4 linked regions of the Homo sapiens genome follow. The protein of the gene in region 4 purifies or fractionates together with the protein of the main gene of each other region. This does not show direct contact. Each region holds a gene or a part of one and is shown on either strand. Other genes may lie near its edges. The genes, in order: RPL7L1, RBM28, GTPBP4 and PUM3.

What was found.
Region 1: the proteins of PUM3 (region 4) and RPL7L1 purify together in Homo sapiens (affinity purification with mass spectrometry; 2 studies listed by BioGRID and IntAct, with this or other methods). This does not show direct contact.
Region 2: the proteins of PUM3 (region 4) and RBM28 purify together in Homo sapiens (affinity purification with mass spectrometry; 2 studies listed by BioGRID and IntAct, with this or other methods). This does not show direct contact.
Region 3: the proteins of PUM3 (region 4) and GTPBP4 purify together in Homo sapiens (affinity purification with mass spectrometry; 2 studies listed by BioGRID and IntAct, with this or other methods). This does not show direct contact.

Annotation. Positions count from the first base shown.
Region 1 is NC_000006.12:42,882,101-42,889,716, reverse strand, and holds part of RPL7L1 (ribosomal protein uL30-like), read right to left. Parts: intron 6,267-7,616; coding exon 6,103-6,266; intron 5,105-6,102; coding exon 4,967-5,104; intron 3,744-4,966; coding exon 3,634-3,743; intron 3,462-3,633; coding exon 3,253-3,461; 3' UTR 1-3,252.
Region 2 is NC_000007.14:128,340,762-128,348,783, forward strand, and holds the start of RBM28 (RNA-binding protein 28), read right to left. Parts: upstream 3,148-8,022; 5' UTR 3,033-3,147; coding exon 2,915-3,032; intron 1-2,914. UniProt on the Homo sapiens protein: Nucleolar component of the spliceosomal ribonucleoprotein complexes.
Region 3 is NC_000010.11:1,011,818-1,019,433, reverse strand, and holds part of GTPBP4 (GTP-binding protein 4), read right to left. Parts: intron 6,970-7,616; coding exon 6,772-6,969; intron 5,188-6,771; coding exon 5,122-5,187; intron 3,682-5,121; coding exon 3,538-3,681; intron 2,360-3,537; coding exon 2,207-2,359; 3' UTR 1-2,206. UniProt on the Homo sapiens protein: Involved in the biogenesis of the 60S ribosomal subunit. Acts as a TP53 repressor, preventing TP53 stabilization and cell cycle arrest.
Region 4 is NC_000009.12:2,840,665-2,848,291, forward strand, and holds the start of PUM3 (pumilio homolog 3), read right to left. Parts: upstream 3,432-7,627; 5' UTR 3,381-3,431; intron 1-3,380. UniProt on the Homo sapiens protein: Inhibits the poly(ADP-ribosyl)ation activity of PARP1 and the degradation of PARP1 by CASP3 following genotoxic stress. Binds to double-stranded RNA or DNA without sequence specificity. Involved in development of the eye and of primordial germ cells.

The sequences.
Region 1 (7,616 bases), on a different chromosome or scaffold from region 4:
CACAGGTTGGAGAATATTAGCTCCCATTTTATGGACAGAGTGGAAACACTGTACCCATATTTAGTGTAAGACAGAGCTGGGATATAAGCCTTGGGCTTCCATAGTCACAACTGCTTTTTTGCATAACTTTGTAATACATCATTTTAAAGTAATCTGATTTCACAATGTTTTACAGTATAGGAGTAACATCTATAGCATCTCTTCTTGGCAGGTTACCTCTGGAGAGAACCAATCTAATTACCTCATACGCTGGCACTTTTTTTTTTTTTTTTTTTGAGACAGAGTTTTGCTTTTGTTGCCCAAGGTGGAGTGCAATGGTGTGATCTCGGCTCACTGCAACCTCTGCCTCCCTGGGTTCAAGCAATTCTCTTGCCTCAGCCTCCCAAGTAGCTGGGATTACAGGCATGCACCACCACATCCGGCTAATTTTGTATTTTCAGTAGGGACAGAATTTCTCCATGTTGGTCAGGCTGGTCTCGAACTCCTGACCTCAAGTGATCTGCCTGCCTCAGCCTCCTGAAGTGTTGAGATTACAGGTGTGAGCCACCGTGCCCAGCCTAAGCTGGCATGTTTTAAGGCAGTTACATCTCTAACTTGATTTACCAGCTATGCTTGAGGGTCCAAGGAGCCAAAATTGCAGCCAAACTGATCTTAAAGGACCAGGGAATAGAATGGTCAAGCATGTTTCCAAGTTTAACCTAGGCCTGGCACATCCTTGCCAATTGCTCAGATGGCAAGTGAGGGGCAACTAAGTGAAGAGAATAGCAGGAAGACCCACTTGGGGTGGACACTGATGAAAAACACAAGCAGTATCAGACTCACTGTTTTCAGGATTAAAATCCCCAGATGCCCTGTTATTGGTCTATGTCACTACCAGTAGGACAAAAGGCAATGCTTCTGAAGACTAGAATATGCAAGGAAAAAATTAAGGTGCCTGCCTGCCTGGGGCCTAACGAGCCAAACAGTGCTAATTTCATCCATGCCAAACAAAATTGTTCATTCCTTGCTGATTTGGGTTTTAAGGAACCATGCTGATCATCAGAGAAACCAGGCAATTCTATTCTGAAGCCCAGGGGAAGAAATGGTGGGGATTTCTGAGTTACAGATGGTGCAGGGGTTAACACTATCTGCCACTATGAAGGGAAAAATCTATCTTGGTAAACTTTGGTCTTCCATAGGACATGGAACCAGAGTAGCAAGATCAGGGCCTGCGTGACCGATCCTGATTGAGCAGGACTTCCTCACATAAGGTACACAAGAGCTGGGCGCAGTTGCTCATGCCTGTAATCCCAGCACTTTGGGAGGCCCAGGCTTGTGGATCACTTGAGGTCAGGAGTTTGAGACTAGCCTGGCCTACATGGTGAAACTCTGTCTCCATCTCTACTAAAAATACAAGAATTAGCTGGGTGTGGTGGTACATGCATGTAATCCCAGCTGATCAAGGGGCTGAGGCAGAATCACTTGAACCCAGGAGGTGGAGGCTGCAATGAGCTGAGATCATGCCACTGCGCTCCAGCCTGGGCAACAGGGTGAGACTGTCTCAAAGAGAAAAACAAAACCCATAAGATGCACAGGTATCTGAGAAGGGTCTAAACACCCTAGAACTGCAAGCAAAATTTTGAGTGTATACATGTTTTCCTGGCGAAGGGGTCCTCATTCTCAAATCCTGAGCTTTTAGGAAAAAGTACTAAGCCAGTTTCAGGTTACGATACAAAAGCCACCAGATACACTTAGAGCCAGTCAAGTTTGAGAATTCTCAAAGCCATCACTGAAAAGTTGGAACACATACTCACAGCAGAGACAAGTGAACATTTATTTTTATGCCTTTCTTCCTATGTGTATTTCAAGTCTTTTTCAAAACAAGGCCCCAGGACTCTCCAGATTCAATTATGTCCTTGGGCTTGGTCGACTGCTGCAGGAGTCTCAGGGAGCCTTCTACAAATGCTAGAGTGACTCATTTACCAACATTAAACCCTAGGATACATGCAACAAAGCAGGACTCCTTCCTCCATGGAATGTGCCGATTTCAGATGACACAGCACCCAATGCAGAAAACACTGGAATTTTTCCTTGGAACTCGACTGTGATGAGAGGTGCTTGACATGAACATATGCTACTGTCTTTTCTTTTTTTTTGAGACAGAGTTTCGCTTGTTGCCCAGGCTGGAGTGCAATGGCGTGATCTCAGCTCACTGCAACTTCCACCTCCCAGGTTCAAGCGATTCTCCTGCCTCAGCCTCCTGAGTAGCTGGGATTACAGGCACGTGCCACCATGCCCGGCTAATTTTTGTATTTTTAGTAGAGATGGCATTTCTCCATGTTGGTCAGGCTGGTCTCGAACTCCCAACCTCAGGTGATCTGCCCACCTCAGCCTCCCTAAGTGTTGGGATTACAGGCATGAGCCACCACGACCGGCCAGCTACTGTCTTTTCTTTGACCCTTTCCAGTTTCTGAAGATAAAGCAGGAAATAATCTTCTCTGAAGATACTTGATAAAAATTTCCAAAACAAAACACATGCTTCCACTTCACTGATAAAAAATTTACCGCAGTTTGGCACCTAAGAGTATGACAACAGCAATAAAAAGTAATTTCAAAGAGTTAAGATTTCTTCAGCAAAATAGATGATTCACATCTTCAAGTCCTTTTTGAAATCAGTTATTAATATTATTCTTTCCTCATTTCCATCTGAATGACTGCAGCAATAGTTTTTTTTTTTTTTTTTCCGAGATGGAGTCTCGCTCTGTCGCCCAGCTGGAGTGCACTGGTGCAATCTTGGCTCACTGCAATCTCTGCCTCCTGGGTTCAAGCGATTTTCCTGCCTTAGCCTCTCGAGTAGCTGGGACTACAGGCACGCGCCACCACACCCAGCTCATTTTTGTATTTTTAGTAGAGACAGGGTTTCACCATGTTGGCCAGGATGGTCTCAATCTCCTGACCTCATGGTCTGCCCGCCTTGGCCTCCCAAAGTGCTGGGATTACAGGCGTGAGCCACCGCGCCCGGCCAGCAATACAGTTTTTAGTTACTCGACATCTTTAAGCCTATAACTCTTAGGCTATGCATAGCCCCATGTCCTAATCAGGCATTCACTGATCCCAGCAGGTCTCCATCTATTTGTACCAGCCTCCTCTATTCCTCCCAATCTCAAGGTTACTCTTAAATACTAGTAAATGCAAAAAGAACTTGTAAAGTGGCAAGGCATGGCCTATCAAAAGTCAGCCCAAGGGCAGTTTTCAGCCCTGCCTCACCTGGGTCTAGTTCAGCTGACGGATGAGCTGATTGATGCGTTCACCCCGATAGCCAGGTGTGCCCATCTCCTTGAGGAAGCCCACTCTATTTTTGGTAGCATGACGGGCCACTGAGAGGTGGAAAGGGCACAAGAACCATGAGATCTCCTGGAAATGCTTCCCTGGGAAGGCAATTTCATGAATGAGGTCTTCCAAGCAAATGACGCCAAACTTCCCTAAGAAACACAAAAGCACAGATTCCTTTATTTAACATGTATCCAGCATATACTAAGCTGGCCACTCTGGCAGACTCTTGGGGCCCCAAGAAGAATACAACCTGAATCTCACATCAAAGCTTCAAAGACCCTGGCTTTCTGCCCCAGCTGATCCCTAAGCTGTAGCACTCACCCAGGTGCTCCTCAATCACTGTATTGTCTGTCAGAGGGATGGTCTTATTCTTGACCTTGGCTTGTCCACGTTTCAAAATGAGTTCTCGGACAGACTTCAGATTTGGAAATCTATGTAGGAAAATAAAGCACGGTTTTCACCAGCACCTGGCACACTACATACCAGTCCTGCAGCCTGGCTGAGAGGTTGGAGAGGTTCTCCCACACACTCACTTCTCCCAACGAGCAAGTGTTCTGCAATCACATTCCAGCTGAAATGCTTGGAAATACTCCTGATAAAGAACTGAAGTGACCCCACTTACATAATTAGAAATTTAAATTTATGGATGTAAATGTTCACCAGGGAAAATATTGCCAACAAAAACAAAACAGAAACCATGTCCTAGCTTACCTTAGGGGCTACGACTCTGGCCTTAGGTGACCCTCTACTCAAGATGGTGCAAGAGTTGGAAATAAAATCCAAGTTTTTGTTGGGTTTCAATGTTTGAGGAATACTACTCTTTTTTTTTTTTTGAGACGGAGTCTTGCTCAGTCTCCCAGGCTGGAGTGCAGTGGCACGATCTCGACTCACTGCAAGCTCCGCCTCCCAGGTTCATGCCATTCTCCTGCCTCAGCCTCCCAAGTAGCTGGGACTACAGGTGCCAGGCTAATTTTTTTTGTATTTTTAGTAGAGACGGGGTTTCACCATGTTAGCCAGGATGGTCTCGATCTCCCGACCTCGTGATCCACCGTGTCTGGCCTTTTTTTTTTTTTTTGAGACAGAGTGGATTGCAGTGGCACAATCTCAGCTCACTGCAACCTCTGCCTCATGGATTCAAGCGATTCTCCTGCCTCAGCCTCCCAAGTAGCTGGGAATACAGGCACACATCACCATGCCTGGCTAATTTTTTTTGTATTTTAGTAGAGACAGGGGTTTCACCATGTTGGCCAGGATGGTCTCAATCTCCTGACCCTGTGATCCACTCCTGACCGTGTGATCCACCCGCCTCGGCCTCCCAAAGTGTTGGGATTACAGGCATGAGCCAGTGTGTCCGGCCAGGAATACTACTCTTACACATGCACTGCCTTTAGCTCTGCTTTAAGACTTTCAAGAACCAAGCTTTCCTTGACCCAGCCTTAGCCTATGACTGAACCAGCCCTACTATGGTATTGTTCAGACCCCTCCCTACCCTGTGTCCCATGGTTATTACAGCTACCCACTGATTTCAGGTTGACTGTGGTCACAGCAAAATGTCCCTTCTACAGCAACATGAGCCCTGGAAAGCAATACCCGGTGCACCCTGACACACTCAAATAGAAATCTAATGTGAATTCACATGGAAAACCTTACTTACCCCCAGGTCACATAAGGTTCCACTATACGCAGCATTTTTAGATTCTGGGGGGTGACTTTTACAAAGACACCACTAAAAATTTTCTTTAGGCGAAGTCTTGCAATGGTTCTCTGCACCAGTAAACTCACGCCGTCAATCCTGAAATGAACAGCAACAGAAGTCAGACAGACTCCCTCCAGTTTATGTCAGTCCAGCAAGCACAACATGCGAGGTCACTACACTGGGTAATCTGGAATAAGACACAGAGACTATGCCTTAAAGAGCTCAGTTTAGTGGGAGGCGGTTATGAAAACAGATCCTTTTCATAATGTGGAGCAGTGCCTGGAATGCTATGGAAATTGAACTTGTGTGTGTTTCAGGGGTAGGCGGAGTGGTGGTATGTAGGTCTACACATGTCCAGCTAAGGAAGCTGGATGTGCTTCTATGGGCAGTAAAAGCTACTGAAGATTTTAAGCAGAAGAGACCAGACCAGATTTCTTTCTGACAATCACCAAGGGCAGTGTATGGGACAGATCACAGTATGACACTAGAGGCAAGGAAATCCAGGAGGAAGGTTAATACAATAGTTCAGGAAAAATATGAGCAGTGGTAGAGGGCTACAAAGGACAGAGCTCATAAACATGCAAAATCCACAGGTTTCTGGTTTGGGTGATTGGGTAGGGGAAACAGCAAGAAGTAGAGTTGTACATGGGGTGGGCAGGGGGTTGGGAAAGTTCCACTAAATGAGGAAAAATGTCTCCCCTTCACTGAATATGCTTCATCCACTCAGCCTTGTTTCAGTTCCTAGAATGATGCCTTGCTTTCCCTACCTCAGGACTTCAGCACGTATGCCTGAAAAATCTCCCAACACTGGTGAACGCCTTTCACATCTTTCAGGTCTCAGGTTGAAGTTCCTGCTTTAGAGAGGGTGTCCTCAACCCCTCTCCCTAGTGAGCACTTTACCCTCATAGCACTTATTTTCAAGCCTATCTGTCTAAGGTCTTCCAAATATTGCAGACTAAATTGTGCTCAACCCTGACATCCTAGCACAATTTGCCTGAGTGGCTTGGGGCATATTATCTCCCTAGAAAGGGGTCTAAAGCTTAAGCAACACTTTGCCCCAGCCTCATGCAATTAGAAAGACACCAGTTCCTTACCTTTCGATGCGTACAACAAAGGCCAAGGAATGTTTATCTGGCAATTCCAAGGCATGAGGTTTCACTTCTAGTCGTCTGAGACGCACCTTGTCACGTTTCTGCCGCCAGGAATCATGTAGGAATGATTCCAGTCGCTTAAACCTGAGCCCTTTTCCTTTCTTCTGCTACAGAGAAGACAGACCATCATCATCATCTTGTGCCTCCATACATTTTTACTTTTAGAACAGTAATTCATAAGTGACAACTGATATAGCTTATTTCCCCGTGTTCCACAATGCGAAGCAAAGCAACATTCTCTATTTTCATATAAAGGAAAAATGAGAAACCAAAGTAAAGGTGGAGTTGAGGAAACTTGGGAATTATTGGGAAAAATAACGAACAAAAAATTAGTTTACATATTAATCAGTGTTTACTAACAAGTTTCCTTAAACTCCACGCCAGCATTTGCCTGCAGGTGTTAAATATTTGCTAAATGAAGACATAAACCATATACACTTGGTGCTCTGCATCTGTGATTCAACCAACCCCAGATGGAAAATACTTTGGAGGAGCACATACAGTAGCTCACCCTGTAGTCCCAGCTACTTAGGAGGCTGAGGCGGGAGGTTCTCTTGAACCCAGGAATTCAAGGCTGCAATGAGCTATGATCCTGCCACTGCACTCTAGCCTGGGTAACACAAGACCTCACTCCTTGTTCTTTTTTTTTTCTGAGATGGGGTCTCGCTCTGTCGCCCAGGCTGGAGTGCAGTGATATGATCTCGGCTCACTGCAACCTCTGCCACCTGAGTTCAAGCCATTTTCCTGCCTCAGCCTCCCAAGTAGCTGGGATTACAGGCATGCGCCACCACACCCGGCTAATTTTTGTATTTTTAGTAGAGACAGGGTCACCTTGTTGGCCAGCTTGGTCTCAAACTCCTGACTTCAGGAGATCCACCTGCCTCAGCCTCCCAAAGTGCTGGGATAACAGGCATGAGCTACCACACCTGGCCAAAGACCCCACTTATTTTTTTTTTTTTTTTTTTGAGACAGGGTTTTGCTCTGTCACTCAGGCTGGAGTGCAGTGGCACAATCTCAGCTCACTGCAACCTCCGCCTCTCGGGTTCAAGCAATTCTCCTGCCTCAGCCCCCTGATTAGCTAGGATTACAGGCGCATGCCACAGTGCCCGTCTAATTTTTTGTATTTTTAGTAGAGATGGGGTTTCACCATGTTGGCCAGGCTGGTCTTGAACTCCTGACCTCAAGTAATCTGCCCGCCTCAGCCTCCCAAAGTGTTGGGATTACAGATGTGAGCCCAGCTGACCTCACTCTTAAAAAAAAAAAAAAAAAAAAATTCAGGGGAAAAAATGAAAAATAACCGTAAAAAGTAATACAAATTTTTAAAATACATTATGTACACTGTATTAGCTATCAGTAATCCAGGCCAGGCAGGGTGGCTCAGGCCTGTAATCCCAGCACTTTGGAAGGCCGGTGGGTGATCACTTGAGGCCGGGAGTTTGAGACCAGCATGGCCAACA
Region 2 (8,022 bases), on a different chromosome or scaffold from region 4:
AACCTTTCCAAAGCAGCTGTGCATTCTTGTCTCATTTTATCTTTAGAACACCTCAAAATAGGTAAAGCAAATATTATCACCCCTTCTTTCCAAGTAAGTAATTTGAGATGGAAGACAGTAAGTGAATTGGTTAATGTCACACAGGGTGTTAGTAGCTGAATTAACTCCTCCTCACCAGCCCCCATGTTCTTCCATAGGACTCCACAAAGAATAATATTAGGACCAAGGAGATGAAAACTACAAATATCAACTGTAACCCACCTTTGCCCTTTTTGGTTTAACATTTTGTATAGTAAAATTTTAAATAATTTATTGCATCAAAAAGGAAAAGGACAGATCAAGAAGTCTGCCTTTACCTGAAAAGGACACATAGTTCATATGCTCTGCTTCTCTTTCCACTGCATTTGAATCTCCTTCAGGGTATAAGCCCTTTGACACAGGACACTGATCTACATAAACTGGTTAAAGCAACATAACATCAATTTTTCTCTTCTCTTGAACTCCTTATCATAAAAGCTGCCCACTCACCTTTCAGAAAATGAGCACAAGAAAATTCATAGCCCTTCATGATCAGTACAACCAAAAGTAAAGCAGCTGAAATGTAAAAGAGTTTGACACCCAAATGAAAGGACATACAGTAAATACCACACATTTTACATGTCTGCATAAAGCATGCTCACATACATTTAGAGTCCCTGACAACCCTGTGAAATTATTCCCATCTTAAAGAGGTGAAGTGACATGCACTGCTATTGAGGAAGACTTCATTCCACATACCCTCCCTCCCGTTTCACTGAGTGCAGCACTCTTTCCAGTACATATCAGCTGTCTGGATAGGAAAGTGCATAGTTTTTTAAAAGGAAGTAAGAGATTTTTAAGGATTTAGACCAAGTACACAAGGTGTAAGGTAAGATTGCATGTAGCCTATATTCTGAGGACTCAAAGGAGAACTCCCATTCAATGGCCTATTCTTCCCTGGAATACAACCACCTGGGTACGGAATGCTACTTACACTGGAACCCAGTACATACATATATTCTTTATTTAAAACTTAAAAGTTTTACAAATACTTATCCTTTACCATATATGGACGTACTCCTATACTATTTAATTTTTTAAGAACTCTAGGCCAGGCGTGGTGGCACATGCCTGTAATCCCAGTGCTTTGGGAGGCCAAGGCAGGAGGATCATTTGAAACCAGCCTGGACAACGTAGTGAGACCCTGTCTCTACAAAAAATATTCAAAAATTGGCCAGGCATGGTGAAGCACGTCTGTAGTCATAGCTACTTGGGAGGCTGAAGTAGGAGGATTGCTTGAGCCCAGGAGTTTAAGGTTACATTGAGCTGTGATCGCACCACTGCACTCCAACTGTCAACAGGGTTGACAGAGCAAGACCCTGTTTCTAAAACACAACAAAACAAACTCTAGTCATGACCCACTCAAGACCCACTAATAGGTAATAATCTGCAGTTTAATAAACATTACTGTACAGGACTTTCGGTCCCTATTTTAAGTACATAAGCTTTTGTCCTATTCTCCAACAGTCTATTGGCAACACACCAGCCAGAGAGAGAATCTTTCAAAACGAATGCCAGATCACACTTACTGCTCTCTGCTTAAAATCAGTGGCTTCCTATCTCTGAGTAAAAGCCAAAGTCCTTGCAATGGTCTATAACATCCTACATGAGGCGGGCGGATCACCTGAGGTCTCGAGTTCCAGACAACCCTGGCCAACATAGCGAAACCCCGTCTCTACTAAAAATACAAAAATTAGCCAGGTGTAGTGACACTCGCCTGTAATCCCAGCTACTTGGGAGGCTGAGGCAGGAGAATGGGTTGAACCAGGAGGCAGAGGTTGCAGTGAGCGGAGATCGTGGCACTGCACTCCCGCCTGGGCGACAGAGCAAGACGCAGTCTTTAAAAAAAAAAAAAAATCTTACATGATCTGCTACTCTAGATCTCATCTCCTAATTCTCTTCCCTTTACTCACTTCAATCCAGTCACCCTGTCCTCCTTACTACTCCTCCAATATACCAAAAACACCTCTGTTTCAGTACCTTTGAGCTTGCTGTTTTCTCTTCCTGAATTGTTCTTCCTCCGGAGAGGCATGTGTTCACTCTCTCACCTCAGTCCGTCCTTCTCTGGCCACCCTATCTATATTGCCACTCTTCACCCCCTCTCCCCACTATACACATGCACATAGACTTCCTAACCCCTTTCCCTGGCTTATTTTTCTCCTTAGCATTTGACATCATTTTCACGGTTGGCTTGTTTATTGGCTCGTTTATTGGCTCTCTTCCCCACCTTGAAGACATAAAATCAAAGATTTTTTTGGTTTGGTGTTGTGCACTGCTGCATCCCCAGGACCTACAACACTTCCTGGCACACAGTAGGTATTAAGTATTTGCTGAATAAATGAATGAACAAGTGGATAGCATCCTGGCTAAGATGTCCAGGTCTGAGGATCAAATCGGGGGTCCACTACTTAACAGCCGTACAAACTTAAAGTTACTAAATTCCCCTAAATCCCGGATTCCTGTCTGTAAAATGACATTAAGACTCTCCATCCGGTAAGATTGCTGAGAAAATTAAATGAGATAACCTGTATCAAACTGATCACTGTACCTGCCAATCAGGTGACTCTCAATAAGTCTTACTGATGCTCTAGTTAACTATTTTCATTTTTAGCGCGCATAATCAACAGAAAGCGCTATAGAAACGTAAGGGAATGCTTTGCCCTTCATAAACTGACTCCTATGAACGCATCTAAAGCAGAATCAGTTTGGAAAAGAAACTCAGTTCCCTGTCCCTTCTCTTCGGGGAGGGTAAAGAATGATACGGCTCCCTGAAGTTTGGGAAGGTGCCCTCGATCGCAGGAAACCCCAGCCCTATCCTCGACCGCCCCGCCCCTACCTTTTTCAGTCACCACGAAGCACTGCTTCACCGGCCCCACCTGACTGAACAGTTCCTCCAGCTGCTCACTGCGGGCCGAGGGCGGGAGGCGGCCCACAAATAAGGTCAGGCCGGCCATGAGACCGGGAAACCCAAAGCGCGTGAGGACGCGAGCAAACTAGGCCGGCGCACGCGAGCCGAAACGCTGGCTTTGGTAGGACAACCAAGCTCACACGCCGAGAGATTCCGGAAGTGCTCGTTGCCCAAAAGAGACCGGAGGAAAACATGGTCGGGAGGGGGATAAAAGGTTCCGGAATGAAAAAATAATGGCGCCCCGGGGCGTAGCTTCTGGAGCGGGGCTCCGCCCCCTGCCCTAGCATCGCCCTCGCCACTTTTGTGTAAACTTGGCATCAATAATTTCTACCCTAGTGTTACAGCTTTTTTAGAATTTGCCTAGCAGGCTTTCTGGTTTTTGCCGGAAGGCCTCCAAAAAGTAATTTTTTTTCTTAATATACAAAATAAAAATAAATAATTTCTACCCTGTTTAAAAATCTCACCTCCAGATCCTCCCCAAAGTTAGCAGGACAGGCAGAAGAAGTCGTTTTTGCCCCGGGCGTAACTCAGGATCTGATATACTGTGGGTGTTTGATATTTTCTGAAGTGCCTCCACAAATTCCCAGATTACGTGCATAAAACACAACCGGAACACTAACACGTAGACATAGATATATCATATACATCATTCGGACGATTCTCATTTTCGGAGAACACCAGCTGTCTGTCACCTCAGCCTCACAAACAAATTGTAGCTACTAAAATACACATAGACACAGATAGTACACAATTATTATTTCAATAAATATATACTGAGCTCTAACTATGAGCCAAGCATTAGGGATAAAACTGGTGAGCAAAGAAATGACAGGGTCCCTGCCCTCATAGAGATTACAGTCTAATGGTGGAAACAGATTTTTTTTTTTGACAGGGCCTCACTTTATCAACCAGGCCGGAGTGCACTGGCACGATCTCGGCTTACTGCAGCCTCGACCTCCCAGGTTCAAGCAGTCCTCCTGCCTCAGCCTCCTGAGTAGCTGGAACTACAGGTGCACCACCACACCCGGCTAATTTTTGTATTTTTTGCAGAGACAGGGTTTCACCATGTTGCCCAGGCTGGTCTCAAACTCCTGAGCTCAATTAGCCCCCCTTAGCCTCCTAAAGTGCTAGGATTATAGGTGTGAACCACCACACCTGGCTGGGAAGACTATTAGTCCAAAAATTCTTACAAATAAATCACAGCACACACACTGCAGGACCACATCAAACACACTCAAAGCAAACATAACATCCAACTTATACACAGAGACCTAGAACCCATGTCCTCCTAGAAACAGAAGATCTTTGTCTCAAGTCAGCTCATCAGACAGACCCAAAGCTGAGAGCTCTTAATTGGCTAGGAAATCTGGGTGCTCCTGGTTCTGGAACACAGAGAGTGTTTGCCATGCCACTGGGCTCAGGACCTGAATAGGTGCAAGAGAGCTACACCTTGCAGAACAACTAGCTCAAAAAAAAGTACCCAAGGCCATTTTTTAAATAATTTTTTTTTTAGCAGACTCTTGCTCTGTCACCCAACTTGGGGTGCAGTGGCACCATCATGGCTCACTGCAGCCTTGATCTCCTGGGCTCAAGCAATACTGCCACCTCAGCCTCCTGAGAAGCTAGGACCACAAGTGTGTACCACCATGCCTGGCCAATTTATTTATTTTTTTGTACAGACAGTTCTCCCTGTGTTGCCCAGGCTAGTCTTGAACTCCTGGGATAAACCAATCCTCCCACTACGGCCTCCCAAAGTGTTGGGATTATAGGCGTGAGCCACTGAGCCCAGCCAAATCATTACTTTTAAATGATAGTAACATGGCAGATAGAAAACTCAAAAACTTTACAGTTTTAGTACCTTTTATAAGGCACTATGGTGAAAATTAAGTTTCATGATCTCCTCAAGCCCCATTCACTTTCAATACATTTTGGATGGCTAGACGACTGGTTGATAGTGATGGGAGTGGAGATTAGGGGGACGCTAAACATCACATTTATGGAGCTCTAGTTCGAAGTAAGTAATCTATGCTTAAAATAAAACTTCACGATTATTTTTTAAAAATACAACTCACGGCCAGGAGCGGCCGTGATCCCAGCACTTTGGGAGGCCGAGGTGGGTGGATCACCAGATCAAGGGTTCGAGACCAGCCTGGCCAACATGGTGAAACCCCGTCTCTACTAAAAATACAAAAAGTAGCCGGGCATGGTGGCACATGCCTGTAATCCCAGCTACTCGGGAGGCTGAGGCAGGAGAATCGCTTGAACTCAGGAGGCAGAGGTTGCAGTGAGCCGAGATTGCACCACTGCACTCCAGCCTGGGCAACAAAGGAAGACTCCATCTCAAAAAAATATATAACTCACTTTGGGAGATCAAGATGGGTAGATCACTGGAACTCAGGAGTTCGAGACTTCTGAAAATAAAATACAAGTTTATTTTTCTTTTTTTCTGAGCAGAGTCTCGCTCTGTCACCCAGGCTGGAATGCAGTGGTGCGATCTCGGTTCACTGCAACCTACACCTCCTAGGTTCAAGCAATTCTCCTGCCTCAGCCTCCTGAGTAGATGAGATTACAGGCACCCACCACCATGCCTGGCTAATTTTTGTATTTTCAGTAAAGACAGAGTTTCACCAACTTGGCCAGGCTGGTCTTGAACTCCTGACCTCAAGTGATCAGCCGTCATCGGCCTCCCAAAGTGCTGGGATAACAGGCATGAGCCACCATACCCAGCCTAAACTTTATTTTTCAACATTAGCTCCATCAAGTTCAAAACACATTTGTAAGCAATGATACCAGCCACTTAGTCCATCTCTAAAGAACTTAAGGTCTTTGGAATTTAAGCATGTCAATGCAGTCTCTCTCTCTCTCTCTCTCTCTCTCTCTCTCTCTCTCTCTCTCTCTCTCTCTCTATATATATATATATATATATATATATATATATATATATATATATATATAATTGAAGAAAAATGTGAGCCCCTTAAAGATTTTTTAAGATTAGGAAACAAAACTAAGTCAGAAGGAGCCAAAATAGGACCTTAAGGTGGATGCCTAATGGTTTCCCATTAACACTCTTGAAAAATTGCCCTTGTTTGAGAGAGGAGTGAGCAAGAGCACTGTGATGGAGAAGGGCCCTCTCTGTTGAAGGTTTCCCCTAGGTATTTTTCTGCTAAAGGTTTGGCTAACTTTCTCAGAACCCTCTCACAATAAGCAGATGTTATCATTCTTTGGCCCTCCAGAAAGTCAGACAGAAAAAAAAAAAAATGCCTTGTAGGCCCGGTGTGGTGGCTCATGCCTGTAATCCCAGCACTTTGGGAGGCCAAGGCGGGCGGATCACCTGAGGTTGGGAGTTTGAGACCAGCCTCAGAAACATGATGAAACTCCATCTCTACCGAAAGTACAAAATATTAGCTGGGCTGTGGTGGCATGCACCTGTGGTCTCAGCTACTCTGAGGCTGAGGTGGGAGGATCGCTTGACCTGGGGAGGCGGAGGTTGCAGTGAGCTATCGTGCCACTGCACTGCACTCTGGGTGACAGAGTGAGACCCCATCTCAAAACAATAACAATAAAAATTTAAAAATAAATTTAAAAATATTACTCAGGAAAGGAAGCTTTGAAATACAAAACAGATTTTTAAGGTTGCTATGTTAATCCTATCCAGGATAAAGAGAAACAAACAGATAAAGGCAATGGGATGGATCATGTAACAAAGTTGGTTTGGGACTCCACATCCTCCTCTTCCTTCTCCTTCCCTCCTGCCCACTCCTATCACCTTAGGAATTAAAATTCCACCCCCAAAGATTAAATTGTGAGCTTCAGAACCCCAGCTAAGGGGAAGCCTTCCTAGTCCTGGCTGCAGTCTGTACAAGGAAAACAATCCTGAGAAGATTGTTCCAATATTCCTTTGTGAGACCCTCCACAAATGCTAAGTTTTAAATAGCTCTGATCCAAATCTTCCTTAATTTAGGACAAATCTAACTGTGTCTCTATGCCCATCAGGGGGCAGCAGCCACCCACAGTGCAGGGTTCTGTGCCCTTCTGGGAGGACAACAGTGCAGCTGACCCTTTCTACCCTCCCCACGGTTCAGACCTGGTTCCCCGATCTGTCTCTCAGCCCAATCCCCTCCAATCCATTTATATCAGGGCAGGCAATGGTTCTTTCCTCAGGAATATTTGCTCATCCATCTACCCAAGACACATGCAGCAATCTTTATTAAATAGCAGGTGCTGTGCTACCCTGCATCACACCAGCAATGTGGCTTCCAGGGGAAATAAACTGCTGGCCTCCTCCTCATCCATCACTGTGCAGGAGCCAGGAAAGGAAGTAAGAGAGGCCTGGGCTGTTCTCAGCCAGCCTCTTCCAGATCCCATCCCTCTAGCTCCACTCCCCCTGGCAAGCTAAACCTTCTTATAATACAGAATAGTTCTTGGCCTTAACACTTGTCACAACTATAATTAATTACTTGTGCTATTGTGATTATTTATGTCATTAGTTGTTTAACATCTGCCTTCCCCCAACAGGCTTTCAATTTCGTAAATTCATGGCTGGTGTCTACCTCGTTCACCTGTCTATTCCCAGCACCTAGTACGTCATAGGCATTCAGTAAATATTCTTTAAGAGATTGAATGAATGAATAAATGAATGAATGTGAGTTTGTCTTTCAGTCCCCACAATACCAAGACTTGGAACTGAAGGGTGTAGGCATTAGGATCTACCTGGATTCTTCCTGGGAAACCCACTCTGGGTAAGGGATGAGGCATGAGACAAAAGGAAAGGATCCTCTAAACAAAATCTTGGCCTCTTTATGAAGTAAAAGGGCTGAGGTTATCCTTGCTGAGGAAAATCAAAGAAGTGTTGGAGCTGGTGAACACCGAGCTGTATTCCCTCAACTCCCTCCTGCCTCCCCCCAACTCCATTTAGAGCTGCCATACAGAAAAGGAGTGTATGTGCAGAAGTGTGTGTGTGTGTGTGTGTGTGTGTGTGAGAGAGAGAGAGAGAGAGAGACCAATAGACAGGCCAACAGAGAGACTGGCTAGGG
Region 3 (7,616 bases), on a different chromosome or scaffold from region 4:
AAAACAGGGCAAAAGGGGCACTTGATTGCCCATCATGTATAAATCACTATTTCAACCTTTTCATCAACTTTGTCATATCTTCATTTTCCCTTTTCCTTATTTCCATATTTCTCATCTGCCTGGTTGCAGGGAGGAAATTTAACATTTCCTTTGTCCCAATTTCCATTTTATAAGCACTTGTTTGATTAACAGCAGCTGATCCTGAAAGTCTTGGGGAGATCTTGAGAGTCCTGAAGCAGGCGGACTAGCCTGGCTGGACCATGAGGCTGTCTCCCCACAGCTTTATCCAAGCCTCCAAGGTCAGGATGGGATCTCTGTATCATGTTTTTCTTTTTAAATCACTTATTTCAGAGTGCAACACAAGGCTGCATTTTTAAAAAAAAGACACATTCAATCTTGCATCCTAATACAAGCAGTACGGAAGATGCGTATGGTCTCAGCCAAGTGACTCGACGTTTATCCACTTCTGTTCATTTGATCGTTTCAGTAATATGCTTACAAATAAAGACATACTTGCTTTAAAACATACTGTTGTTGTTTAACACAAAGTAAACTATATGTTAAGTTTTGGTGTTTAATACGGAGAAAGAATTTCAAAAACCAGACCTGGTATTTTTTTTTTTTTTTTGAGATGGAGTCTCGCTGTCGACCAGGCTGGAGTGCAGTGGTGCGATCTTGGCTCACTGCAAGCTCCGCCTCCCGGGTTCAAGCCATTCTCCTGCCTCAGCCTCCCAAGTAGTTGGGACTACAGGCGCCCGCCACCACACCCAGCTAATTTTTTGTATTTTTAGTAGAGACGGGGTTTCACCGTGTTAGCCAGGATGGTCTCGATCTCCTGACCTCGTGATCCGCCTGCCTCGGCCTCCCAAAGTGCTGGGATTACAGGCATGAGCTGCCGCGCCCGGCCATACTGTTGTTGTTTAACACAAAGTAAACTATATGTTAAGTTTTGGTGTTTAATACGGAGAAAGAATTTCAAAAACCAGACCTGGTATTTTTTTTTTTTTTTTCACACGGAGTCTCTCTCTGTCACCCAGGCTGGAGTGCAGTGGCACGATCTCGGCTCACTGCAACCTCCGCCTCTGGGCTCAAGCAATTCTCCTGCCTTAGCCTCCCGAGCAGCTAGGATTACAGATGCCCACCACCACGCATGGCTAATTTTTGTATTTTTAGTAGAGATGGGGTTTCACCATGTTGGCCAGGCTGGTCTCGAACTCCTGACCTCCTGATCTGCCCACCTCGGCCTCCCAAAGTGCTGGAACTACAGGCTTGAGCCCCTGCGCCCAGCCCAGCCCTGGTAAATTTTTAAAATTGCCACATGTAATCCAGAAGTGTGATTAACTAAAGTCCTTTCCTCAGCTATAATGTTGATTGTGTGACTTGATAACTTATCCGTGGTGGCTCTTGGACCCCTGTGTGTCTTTGGAGCTCCAGGAGCACACGGACCCCTGGGCAGGTCCCTCCGACCCCACAGCTCTTCACCCCAACGCTCCCCAGCAGGTGCTTTTGAGGTGGCATTGGCGGTGTTTTTGTGTTTTACTGAACATGTAACTTCAGGGACGGGCCACAGAAATAGGAGAATGCCCATATTTAATTGCCTAATGCCTCCAGCAACATTTTACTCCCCCAAAAGTATTTTTGCTTTAAAACAAAATAGAAATGTCATGTTGTTTGCCTTTTTATTTGGCCAAATCCATAGCGACTATAACTAAACCAAAACATGAGCTAAGTAAATGAAAACTACTTTCTTCTGGAGGTTTATTTTGGATAAAATAGTTGAAGACAGACTACAATGAGACATTGTAAAATAAGACTAGAAAATAATTTAAGAGCGTATTTTAAGCACGGGATTCCGACACACTCATAAACGTGTTTGCTCCCAGCTCTTACAAAAGAAAATAAGGTTTTTCTCCATCAAAAACAACCTAGTTAAACCAGTAAATCTTCCCAGTTCTGAAAATCTGAAGCAACTGATACTCCATTAAATGTGGAAACACTGTCTACTCAAAATATTTGTAATATTATGCAGTGACAAAAATTTCCCACACCTATATAGGGTTAACCATAGTTTTCAGCAAAGCAACAAGTGCTTTACTTATTTTGTCTTTTTCAGTTTATACAGAGCTCCAATTTCATGAAACCATACTGTGCCAAACCAGGAAATAAACAGCAACACTCTAGCGAAGCCACGCCAACCAAACGGATACTATCTCCTGTCCTTTTTACCAGCTTTCCTCTTCCCAGACAGCAAGTGCTTGGGCTTCATATCAAACACGTGTCTATCCGCCTCCCCTTTCTTCCCCAACCGATTCATCTTCTTCTGAGCATTCTTCATCATAGTCTTGGCTTTCTTCACCATCTAAAAGGAGGAGAAAAAAATAAAGTATGTTCATTACTTAAAACCAATTTTCCATTCTGAATTTCAACTACTGGGTAACAATCTGTTTAATGGCTCAGGTCTGCTCAGCGAAGAGACCCTGTTACATCTCTTTTCTCTTAAGCCCAGCACAGTTATCCCTGTTACATCTCTTTTCTCTTAAGCCCAGCACAGTTACCCCTGTTACATCTCTTTTCTCTTAAGCCCAGCACAGTTACCCCTGTTACATCTCTTTTCTCTTAAGCCCAGCACAGTTATCCCTGTTACATCTCTTTTCTCTTAAGCCCAGCACAGTTATCTGCAGGAACTCAATGAGTATTTTTGTATAAAGACTGGATGAAAATCATACCCAGGACAAGCTTTATACCCAGGACTAGATACACTTTAGACCTAGAAGGTTAGCACACATCTGTTTTAACTCCCTCTTACACAAGCTAAGGACTCAGGCCCATGAACCTGTTTTCCTCAGGTCTGACTGACAAGTGGCAATGCCAATATTAACAGCCAGGTTTCAAGATGGCAATGGCACAGAGGAGTGAAGCTCAGGCTTCCATGAAGGAGACTGCAGTTTATACACAGACTCTCCTGCATCTCCATTACCACAACGCTGAAACTAAAAGTTGTTGTGTTTAATAAAAGGACGTTTCAGCAAGACAGACTGTGTCCATCTTAAGTGTCTTTGCCAAAAGACGCTACAAATAAACTAAATGTGACTCAAGCTCTCCACCTGGGGGGAACAATCCTGCAACCTAAGGATGAGCAGGATCACCCGCCAATCAACCCAGGAGTTCCCTCTGCTGTTCCTCCCATGGGGGGCTTGCTGGACTTGAGGCCTCCTGGTGCTCAGCTGTGGCCACTTCCTGGCCCTCTTCAGACAGCAGGGTCTAAGCCCAGACTGCTAGTGCTGTCAGACCATGCTCTGGCCACCCTCCGCAAAAGCAAAGTGCCAAGGAGGGGTCCATCCAGGGCAGCTGTCAGGGGCATCCACCTGCACCCTGACCCGTGCTCTCCTCTAAAGGATGCCACAAAACGAGGGCATGCAGTACACACAACCCCTGCCATAGTTCCTGCAAATGGCAACTGCTGGTGTTTGCCCTGAACCCTGTGCAATAAACAACAGAGACTGTCATTTTATTACATTACACAACACAGAGACTGACCTTGACATCCCTAAGACCAGAAACGTCACGTGGAGTTCGAGAGCAACTCCCACTCCGGGCCACAGAGGACGGGGGAGCAGAGTCTTCCCGCTTTCTTTTCCTAGTGATGCTCCGGGATCTTCTTGCCTGGACTGCGTAATGGGCCTGCAAAGCAGGGGAAGCAATGCTCAGCGCTCAGGACCCCAGGTCCACTCCCAGGCTCAGTGCTCAGCGCTCAGGACCCCAGGTCCACTCCCAGGCTCAGTGCTCAGCGCTCAGGACCCCAGGTCCACTCCCAGGCTCAGCGCTCAGGACCCCAGCCCCGCTCCCAGGCTCAGCGCTCAGGACCCCAGCCCCGCTCCCAGGCTCAGCGCTCAGGACCCCAGCCCCGCTCCCAGGCTCAGAGCTCAGGACCCCAGCCCCACTCCCAGGCTCAGCGCTCAGGACCCCAGCCCCACTCCCAGGCTCAGCGCTCAGGACCCCAGGTCCACTCCCAGGCTCAGCGCTCAGGACCCCAGGTCCACTCCCAGGCTCAGAGCTCAGGACCCCAGCCCCGCACCCAGGCTCAGCGACAGGCATGAGGTCACTCCAGCAAGAGGGGAGGAGAGGAGCGTCTGAACCATTAACACATGGGCTAAAGGTCTTGAAAATACACGCAGTATTTTCATATTAGTGACACCATTTCAAGTTCACATTAGTAACAATTTCACATTAGTTGTTGGTCAAATATTCTTATTCACTTAACGGAAGCTGCTTTACGTAAGAAAGCTGATTTTAACTCCACTTAAAGAAACTTAGAACTCTCATTTAAAAGTGATTATTATAGTATAGCATCACAATTTATATTTCAGATATAAACAATGCTCTCTCCCTCACTGCCCCATTTTGGGGGTTACTGATATGAACACAAAGGGACAACCATCAGACAGAAACCATCAGACGGAAACTGCAGACTGCACATCTAGAGGACAGGGTCTGCAGCCACACCCTGGGCACGTCATGGTGCTGTCTCGTGCTGGCTGTGGAGCTTTTTTTTTTTTGAGACACAGTCTTGCTCTGTTGCCCAGGCTGGAGTGCAGCCTCAATCCACCACTTCAACCCAGACCCAGGGTCAGGGAATCCTCAACCCATCACTTCAAGTCAGTCCCAGGGCCAGCGAATCTCAAAAGAGAAAAACTGGAAGCTCTCATTTCTTTTTGCTGTAATTTCCCACGTTCCCACGGCTTTCCAAAACCCTGGTTTCTTTCTTTCTTTTTTTTGAGATGGAGTCTCACTCTGTCGCCCAGGCTGGAGTACAGGGGCACGATCTCAGCTCACTGCAATCTCTGCCTCCCAAGTTCAAGCAATTCTCCTGCCTCAGCATCCTGAGTAACTGGGATTACAGGCACACGCCACCACGCCCGGCTAATTTTTTGTATTTTTTTTAGTACAGACTGGGTTTCACCATGTTGGCCAGGCTGGTCTCGAACCCCTGACATCATGATCTGCCCGCCTTGGCCTCCCAAAGTGCTGGGATTACAGGCATGAGCCACCACGCCCGGCCAGTTTTCTTTATTAAAAAGGTGTATCCAGCCACATAAACACATGAACCGCCCCCACACTCACATCGTCTTTATCGTCCATGTCAACACCAAGACTACGCATCTCCTTCTCCAAAACTGTCCTCTGAACCTGAGAAGGATAAAAAGAAATATTAGCTTTAAATTAGTTTGATGAAATGTTGAAAAAAACTTCAAGGCAATATATATGTATACATATTTTGCAACAATTATAATATACTTATTTTAGAAGTTGTAATTTTTATTGGGCCCCGCTTTCATGTTTTTGGATAGCTCAATTAAATCCCACGAAAACTAACATTAACAGAGCAGTTGCTGTGGGAAGAATCAGCGTATCCTCCACGTCTGTCCATTCTTCACCGCAACACGGGGGAGAGAGTGACCGTCTCCATCAGAGGTGAGACACTAAAGCTGAGGTTAGTGAGGTGGCCTCAGACAAAGGCAGTGCGCCAACCTCTCTCCTCCCAGAGATGGCTGAGCCCCACCTGGAGAAGTACAAAAATGTCCAAGTCCGCCATAACCAGTCACTTGCCACCATGTGAAAACAGTGTATTCAAACAGGAAGACCCACTGAGAGGCATCCTGAATGTCAAGTGACTTCTCTGGTTACATGTTAACTGCCCTGCATGTGGGCTTTCTTCCCCCAGTCCCACCCTGCCACAGAGCCAATAAATTGCCTTTTGTAGACTGCGTCAGGTTTCTGTAAATTGCTAAAGAGTCCAGATTTTTTTTTAAATTTTTTATTTTTTGAGATGGAGTCTTGCTCTGTTGCCCAGGCTGGAGTGCACTGGCACAATCTCGGCTCACTGCAAGCTCTGCCTCCCGGGTTCACACCATTTTCCTGCCCCAGCCTCCCGAGTAGCTGGGACTACAGGCGCCCGCCACCACGCCCAGCTAATTTTTCTGCATTTTTAGTAGAGACGGGGTTTCACTGTTTTAGCCAGGATGGTCTCAATCTCCTGACCTCGTGATCCACCCACCTCAGCCTCCCAAAGTGCTGAGATTACAGGCGTGAGCCACTGCGCCCGGCCTAAAGAGTCCAGATTTAATGCAGAAATTAAAGAACAAGAAAACCAGCCGGGCGTGGTGGCTCACGCCTGTAATCTCAGCACTTTGGGAGGCCAAGGCAGGCAGATCACTTGAGGTAAGGAGTTTGAGACCAGCCTGGCCAACATGGTGAAACCCCATCTCCACTAAAAATACAAAAGTTAGCCAGGCGTAGTGGCAGGTGCCTGTAATCCCAGCTACTCGGGAGGCTGAGGCAGGAGAATTGCTTGAACCCGCGAGGTGGAGGCTGCAGTGAGCCAAGATGGCGCCATTGCACTCCAGCCTGGGAGACACAGCAAGACTCCATCTCCCCCCTAAAAAAAAGAGAGAGAGAAAAAAGAAGAGGAAAATGTTCACTGATAGCCTTGAACGTCTGTGAACCATAAGTTACAGTTTTAATCTGTACAACTGCAAAATGACTGGATCTAGAGTAGTGCCAAACTCGAAGCTGAAAGTCACCAAGAAAGGACGCAGTAAAGAATATAAAAGATCAATACGTGAGCGATCTTGCAAATCCATACACCAATAAAACAAGAATGTGCAATCTTATGGCCATAAATGGGTTGAAAAGTTGTTATTTAGCAATGATCACACAGGAATCCAATTTTCAAAAACTAGATCACACTGCTTTGGAAAGACACAAACTTGCCTTCTTAGCAGTTCGCGGCATCCTGGGTCCCTGTGTATTCTTTTCTTTGGACTCCAGAATTTTCAACTTCTTTTTCTCTCGAATTTGCTTTGCCAGCTGTCGGATTTCCAGCATCTCTTCGTCTTCACTCTCAGATACACTGTCATACTCTCCAGCAGCTGTTCTCAGCTCTTCTTCTTTTTCTAATTCTTCCAATTTCTTTAAAAATGGAGTTGTAATGAAGCAAAATTAACAATGAGAAAACCCCTGAGTCAGTGAGTGTGGCAGAGTGTGTATGGGAGCTTTGTTTCCCTGACTCAGAGGAGAGCGATTGCCCTGGTCCAGACCCACCTGGGCCCTGCCTATGTGCCATTTACCTCACAGGGAGGGTTCTGTGAAGAAAATGGAGACCACGTGAACGCCAGCCGCCAGCAAGTCAGTAACCCCTGTGCACCATTTCCTTTTTTTAAAACAATTAAATTCCAAGGCTAAAAATGTGCAGAGACCGCCTCCTTCACTTCCAATGCTCCCGGCAGACACACACAAGGAACTCAGTCCTGAGACACTGATTTCGTGCCACATCCCACGTGTCCGTTCTAATGTCACCCCAAATACAACCTCACTGGCTACAAATAAGACAAAAATGAAAACTAAAACACACACGTTTATCACCCCCCAATGAGGCAACCCGGCCAGGAGCCCAGCAGGCAGATGTGCCTGTACGAGATGCTGGCCAGCAGTGCAGAGGGTGAGACGGGGGCCAGGCCTCGTGGAAGGGGATGGCACGGGCACAGCTGTGCGGAGGAGGGAAGTCTCAAGGCTTCTTGCGCCCAAGAGCGCGCACTGCAGAGGGGAAGAGGCTGGGA
Region 4 (7,627 bases):
CAAATAATGCTAGCTCCAGCCAGGGGGAAGTTTCTCAGGTTGCTTCTGTGTCCTTTTGACGCGGCCCAACTGTTTTGTTTTGCTTTTAAAGCACATCCTTATTTCCTGGCACTGGCTCCAGGTTCCTTCTGTATTTTCCTTAACCTAGCCCTGAAATCAGCCACTTCTCCAAGGAATCCTGGTTCCTTTCATTGAGAATGGTATTTAAAAACCAAGATCTGAGTGCTAGGCGCACTTGTTGTCACTGAGGTGTCCCTGTTTCTATGTCCTTTCGGCAGACAGATTCAGGAAACACATATATGTATATTAACTTATGCATATGCACATACCTATATTTATTTTTATATCTATTACAATAACTTGAAGCTCATACTGATGTTTCCAAATCTAATCAAGCACCACATATTTTCCTCCAGGCATCTCCTCTTGCTCATTTGTAACTTCCTTCTCTGACAGTGAGCAACCTGCTTCCCACCATCTACAATTTATTTATACACATATTCCACCCTACTATACATGCATAGTTTCAGAATTGCTAACCTGTACCCCGTGAGAAATAAATTTACAATGACAGTACAGTGTTGACGTACAATTCTTTTTTGTATCCATTCAAAATACTTTTCCAAAGTTACTTAGAGGCTTGCATGGTGGCTCACACCTGTAATCCCAGCACTTTGGGAGGCTGAGGCAGGTGGATTACCTGAGGTCAGGAGTTCAAGACCAAACCCCATCTCTACTAAAAATACAAAATTTAGCTGGGCATGGTGGTGTTGCAAACATGTAATCCCAGCTACTCAGGGGGCTGAGGCAGGAAAATCACCTGAACCCAGGAGGCAGAGGCTGCAGCGAGCTGAGATTGTGCCACTACACTCCAGCCTGGGCAACAGAGTGAGACTCTATTTCAAATGTTAAACTACCATAGCAATTAATAAACATTTCAGACAAGATGTTTGGAGAATATATGGACATCCTACCTCCTCTTAAGTTTTACTTGCTAACTTTAGCATTCAAGTCAGTGTATTCTGCCTGCAGCAATTACTGCTGCAGGCCAAAAAAAAAAAAAAAAGGTTCTTAGATCAGCCCTTCGGCCCCTCACCCTCTTTAGTGAAGTTACATGTTTATAATATAGTTTAACTGATTTGTCACAGCCTGCATTCCATCCCCAGAAATGCTGGCAGATTTATTAAATGTGCATATAGTCAAGTTTACTCTTTCTGGTGTATAATTCCACGGGCTTCAACAAATGGCTAAGACTCATGCATCCACTACCACAGTATCTTACAGAAAAGTCCTGTCACTCTAAAAAGTCCCCTGGTACAGCTCCTTTGTATTCAACTCCTTCCCTCTTTCCTGACTGCCAATGATTAGGTTTTCACTCCTGTTTTGTCTTTTCCAGAATGGCATTCTTATACATGGAATCATACAATATGTAACTTTTTGAGTCTTGCTTTTTGCACTGGGCAAAATGCAATTTGCTTTGCTTGGGAACCCTGTACCTTCGTAATGAATCATCACATTCAATAGTGTCTCTTGGAATTCGCCCCCCTTTTTCCTTTCCCTCTATTACCCCATTCAGGCTCCTGTTACCTCTTGCTCAGTTTTGTTTAGATCCTATCTGCTTTGATCCACTTTCCGCTGCCTGATTAACCTTCCAGTAGCACACCTATTTCATGTCATTTCCATGCTCCAATAGCTTCAAAGCTTTCCCACTGCCTTCAGGAAAAAGTTCCAACTCAGGCATTCACAGCCATTCAAAATGTGGTCTTAATTCACCCCACTCATCACCACCACACAGGAGCCACTATTCTTATCAGAATAGTGAAGTTTAAAGCCATTCTCTCTACCAACACAATTTCTACCCATCCTTCAAATTCAGTTTAAATGACATTTTCTTATAGACCAACCTCTACATGTTAGCATTCCTCAAATCTTTGCCCTAGGGAACTTCCCTTCTCTCTCCACACTTCTCCCTAGGTGGTCTCATCCAATCTCCTGGCTTTTTATGCTGAGTACTCCCAAATCATGTCTCCATTATGAACTTCTCCTTGGGGTCCAAACTTGTGTATAACTGCTTATCTGATACCTCTAATTATGTGTCTAACAGGAACCTTACCCTTAATATGTCCAAAACATAATTCTCTATGTTGTTCTTTATGTTATTGTTGTTTGCCCCACAAACAACAATATACTATTTTTCCCTGCCCTATCGTCCTCCATCTCAGCCAATGGCACATCATCTACTTTACTGCTCAAGTAAGAAATCTGAGTTACCCTTGACATTTTCCTCTCTACTCTGCCACGCTGAACCATAAGTTAGTTCTCTTAAATGTCCCTTACGTCACCACCCTAATGCAAACTATTACCAATACAATCTCTTGAGCTTCCAAATGTAATACATTTTCTAAAGAGAACCAGGGCCTATTCATGATTCTCACTTGCTTACAAGTCTTCAATGTTTTCTACACATGGTAATAGGAACGGAAATGTTTTCCTATTGTACAGAAAAAAAAATTCCCCATCATGACCTTCAAGGCCCTACAGAACCTAGTTCCACTCTATCCGGCTAACTTTATCTTGTACTCTAACTATACTCCTTCCTAGCTCCCATCTCAGGAACTTAGCCCATTATCGCCTCTGCTTGAAGTACTCCCTGAGCTTCCAAATCTCCGTTTAAAGATCACTTCTTCAGACTCCACTATCTGCCAACTCAGCATCCAGTTCGTTTCCTCCCAGCACTTAGAATCTGCGTACATTCAGGCAAACCGCCTAGCACTGGAGTTGGGGTTTGTGAAGTAGCACAGACAGGCTGATCAGGCCGAGCACGGGCTGGGATTCCGGAGTGAAGCTAGTCCACTCTAACCCGGCACGCAGGGCAACGTGGTGGGAGAGAGGTCGGAGTCCCGCCCTTCTTTTTTTTTTTTTTTTTTTTTTTGAGACGGAGTCTTGCTCTGTCTCCCAGGCTGGAGTGTAGTGGCACGATCTTGGCTCACTGCAAGCTCCGCCTCCCGGGTTCACGCCATTCTCCTGCCTCAGCCTCCCAAGTAGCTGGGACCACAGGCGCCCGCCACCATGCCCGGCTAATTTTTTGTAGTTTTAGTAGAGACGGGGTTTCACCGTGTTAGCCAGGATGGTCTCGATCTCCTGACCTTGTGATCCGCCCGCCTCGGCCTCCCAAAGTGCTGGGATTACAGGCGTGAGCCACCGCGCCCGGCCAGTCCCGCCCTTCTTGCCAGGCTCCAGTCAGTCCCAAACTCCTAGCCCAGAAAGAGGCCAGAGGAGACTGCCCAGTGGACAACAGCCCCGAGAGACCTTCCCGACTTCCAGCGCCCGGCAGGGTGCGAACCCCTCCCAAGAGCGACCGCTGAGCCTGCCACACTCACCGCACACGTGGGACCGAGACAGCTCGCGCAGCGGATCCCGACCGCCTCTCCGCTTCCGCTTCCTTGCCTTGCTCCGCCCCCGGGCCGCTTTTTTTCATCTTCCGCGGCGGATCAGGGACTAAGAGGTGGAGCTTCCCAGAGAATACAAAAATTCGGAATTTCTATTGGTCCGCTGCTGTTATGCCTCCTCTTGAGGCGCGAGGATTTTGGCCCTTGCAAGAATCCGTCGGGCGGAGGACGCGACAACGGCCACGGGAAATGACGTCATTAACCCTGTGGCTTCCGTGCTGGAAAGAGAGGGAGAGCTCTTGCGAGGCAGAACAGGCTGCTGAAGGACAGACCTGGCTGGCGCGGTTAATAAGAGGCCTGCATCCCGTAGCCTGAACAAATATTGAAGTAGCTAAAGTTTCTAAAGTGTGTTAATTTGCATACTTCCTCAGCAGTCCAGCGTGGAGGATAAAAGGGGTATCTTGTGAGTCGATTTGAATTGTAATCCCGTTTTTTTCACTTGCTAGCTGTGTGGCTCTGGGAAAATTACAGTTTTTATGAGCTTTGGCTTCCTGATCAATAAAATAGAAATAATTAAGTGATACGTGCAAAGCGCTTAGCATGGAACGCTCTCAATAAATGTTTGCCATTTTTAGTGTCTGCTCGTGCCTGGAAACTGCTGTTATTCCATTTTATACTTCAGGAAATAAGATTGTGGTTAGGATATATGCCCCATTTTCCAGATGAAGAAACTGACACCACAAACTTGCTCGTGTCAAGCAACAGAATTTTATTCTTTAACTGTTCTAGAGGCAAGAATTCCAAAATCAAGCTGTTGGCAGAGCCCTGCACCTTTTGAAGGCTCTAGGGGAGAATGCTTTGCTTCTTCAGCTTCTAACGGTTCCAGGCGGTCCGTGGCCTCTTGTTGCATGACTCCAATCTCGGCCTGTCTTCTAATGGCCTTCTCCTGTGCCTGTGCCACTTCTCTGTGTGTTTTTAGGACACTGAACATTGAATTTAGAGTCCACGGGGATAATCCAAGATCATCTCATCTGGAGGTCCTTAATCACATCTGCAAAGGCCCTTTTCCCAAATAAGGTCACTTTCACATGTCCTGGGAGTTAGGACATAGACATATCTTTTGGAGACTATTCAACCCACTGCATCTGTAAAGTTGAGGAACTGGCACTTGATCCCTGGTGCCAGACTTCAGATTTTACTGTCTTCCAACTTACTCCGTTTTCTGGCCACTAAGGAGTTAGAGTTGAAACTGGTAATTTAGTAGACTGTATGCTTCTTGATGACAGGGGCCATCATTACTTTCCAGGCACTTATCTCACTATGCAGCACATAGATACTTGATAAGTTCTTGTCGTCTACCTTAACTGTTACTAGTTTACATTTCAGCTCATTTAAATCTCATAAGAACGTTTTAAATAGGTCTTTTCTCATTTTACAGAGAAAGGCAAAACATAGTAGCTTTGGTCCAGTGAGCCTGACTCTAAACTCAACGTGGCTGCCTCCGTACTGCTTTCAATAATTCAGTAAATGCTAAGAGAAGAGAATATGGAACAGGAATTGCAGGAGGCCCATCAGCTGTGCCTTTTGGGCAAATAGCATAGTAGTGGGGATATTAGACACCTTGAAACACCTGACAAGTAAATGCTGGCCAAAAAGAAAGAAAAATCGCAAAATACACCCTATCACACAACCCTGGGAAGGGATACGTTTGTGTTTTCAACTCGACAGACAGCAGCACCCCATATCCTTGAAGATAGGTCCATGCAGTTGCCTTAAGCATCTGCACCAAAACCCTGCTATTCATTTGCCTTTTCACCAGGGAGGAAAAAAAAAATGTTATCACATATCAAAGCCCTTGATTATTATTAAAAACTTTTTTATCAAGTCTTCTGTGAAAGTGGATTGATTTGGATTTTTTTTTTTTTTTTGGAGTGAATTGAAAGCATCGTGTGGTTTTGCAGAACAGCACAAAAAAAGCTTATCCTGTAATTTTTTTTTTTGTCAAGCAAACCCATTAATTCTTCAAATATCTAATGATCTAAATGTAGACCACTAGGTGTACTCCTACAAGCCTAAGATGCTCTTCTTGCGTGATACACAATTTAATCAGAGCAACTAGACTTGCACACATCCAAGAGGTTAATAACAGTACTATAGCAATGCAATGACGAGCATTGAGATTAGAATCAAAGGAACCTGGCTTACAATCTAAATTCTGTATGGCCAAGGACAAGATAGCCAACTTGTATGGGCCTCAGTTTCTGCATATGTAAAATGGGAATAACAACACTTGTTTCTGGAGTTGCTGTGAGGCTTAAAAGTGATAATATCTTAAAGTTCTTAGCCAGTAGTAAATGTTGAGTGATTTGTAGCTTAAGAGAGAACCAAGGTGTACCCATTTGAAATACTTTGGGGCCGGGCGCTGTGGCTCACACCTGTAATCCCAGCAGTTTGGGAGGCCAAGGCAGGTGGATCACCTGAGGCCAGGAATTCGAGGCCAGCCTGGCTAACATGGCCAAACCCCATCTCTACAAAAATACAAAAATTAGCCAGGTGTGGTGGTGCATGCCTGTACTCCCTGCTACTCTGGAGGCTGAAGCATGGAGAATCGCTTGAACTGGAGAGGCGGAGGTGCAGTGAGTGGAGATTGTGCCACTGTACTCCAGCCTGGGCAACAGAGTGAGACTCTGCCTCAAAAAAAAAAAAGAAAAAAAGAAATACGTTTGACTTCACATAACGGAAAGTTCAGCTAATGGTGGCTTAAGCAATCATTTTCTTAACATAAAAATTTGGAAGGTACTTGGTTGTTGTGGTTCAATGACACAACAATGTCATCAAAGACCCACGCTCTTCCAGTCTCTGTTCTACCACCATCCTCAACGTTGACTTTTTATTGTCCCATTTACTGCTTTTTGATTGCAAGATGAACTCCTCAGTTTCCATATTTATCTAAGAGTTCAGGGCTAGTGAAAGTGCAGAAAGAAATGAAATCCACTATTTCCTCCCAGTGGGGCTCCGTCCTTTTATCCCAGAAGGAAAAGACCCAACAGGAGTCTCCCTTCTATTTCAGTGCCAAGAACTGGATTACACGGCCACCCCAGAATTGAAAGACCATCAGATACAATGTTAACCAGGCATTTGGATTTCATTCTTTTTCTAGTACTCTGGTAAAATTAAAGATCACTTAGCAAATATGCTTTTATCCAGCAGTAGAGATTTAATTTGTGACTTAAGCTAATCTGGTTTAAAACTTAAAATAACTATAGTATCCCAGGTGGTGGATAGCAATCTGGGCAGCGCATTGAATCACCTGTGGAGTTTTTGTTTTTGTTTCTTTAAGTAGCAGTAGTTCTGATTTAATTGGTCTGGAATGGGACCTGAGCATTGAGAATTTGATGCCTAGATCATGCTAACATGCAGCTAAGGTTAAGACCCAGTTATTTAAGGAATGGGGTTCAAGTTTTGTTTGTCTGTTTGAGACAGAGTCTTGTTCTGTCACCCAGGCTGGAGTGCAGCGGTACGATCTCAGCTTACTGCAACCTCTGCCTCCCGGGTTCAGGCAGTTCTCCTGCCTCAGCCTCCCAAGTAGCTGGGACTACAGGCGTGCGCCACCAGGCCCGGCTAATTTTTGTATTTTTAGTAGAGACGGTGTTGGCCAGGATGGTCTTGGACTCCTGACCTCAGGTGATCCACCTGCCTTGGCCTCCCAAAGTGCTGGGATTACAGGTGTGAGCCACTGCCCCGGGCCTGTTGATTTGATATTTTAGTTAACTAGGGGTTAAATCTCCTGGTTCCTCTTTGTATTGCAGGCACCAGAATTTAAGAATTAAATATACAATATGCTTCTCTCTGTAAGTAGAACATTGGAGAGAATTGTATCTTTCTTGCTGACTGAGTTCTCCTAAAGTGATTTAATACCATTAGATGTTAAAAAATGGTTTAAATTTGAACTATACACTTTCAAACATACTCTGGAAAATGTTTGCTTCTTTTTTCAATTTCACATAATTTTGTGTAATTTTCTTTTTTCCATAAAAATAAAATAGGTTAGGTGTCAGCTCCCATACATCTTCCCCTTCCCAAAATCAGTTCTCTGGAGTTCTAATTAGTGGATTTTTAACGAATTACGTTGTTTTTCTGTTTCTCAAATGCATAAGCAGAGATAGAGGGCATGTTACTGATATAAAGCATAAGTGATATTTTGGCAAGGATTGGGCTTTATTTTCAGGACCTATTAG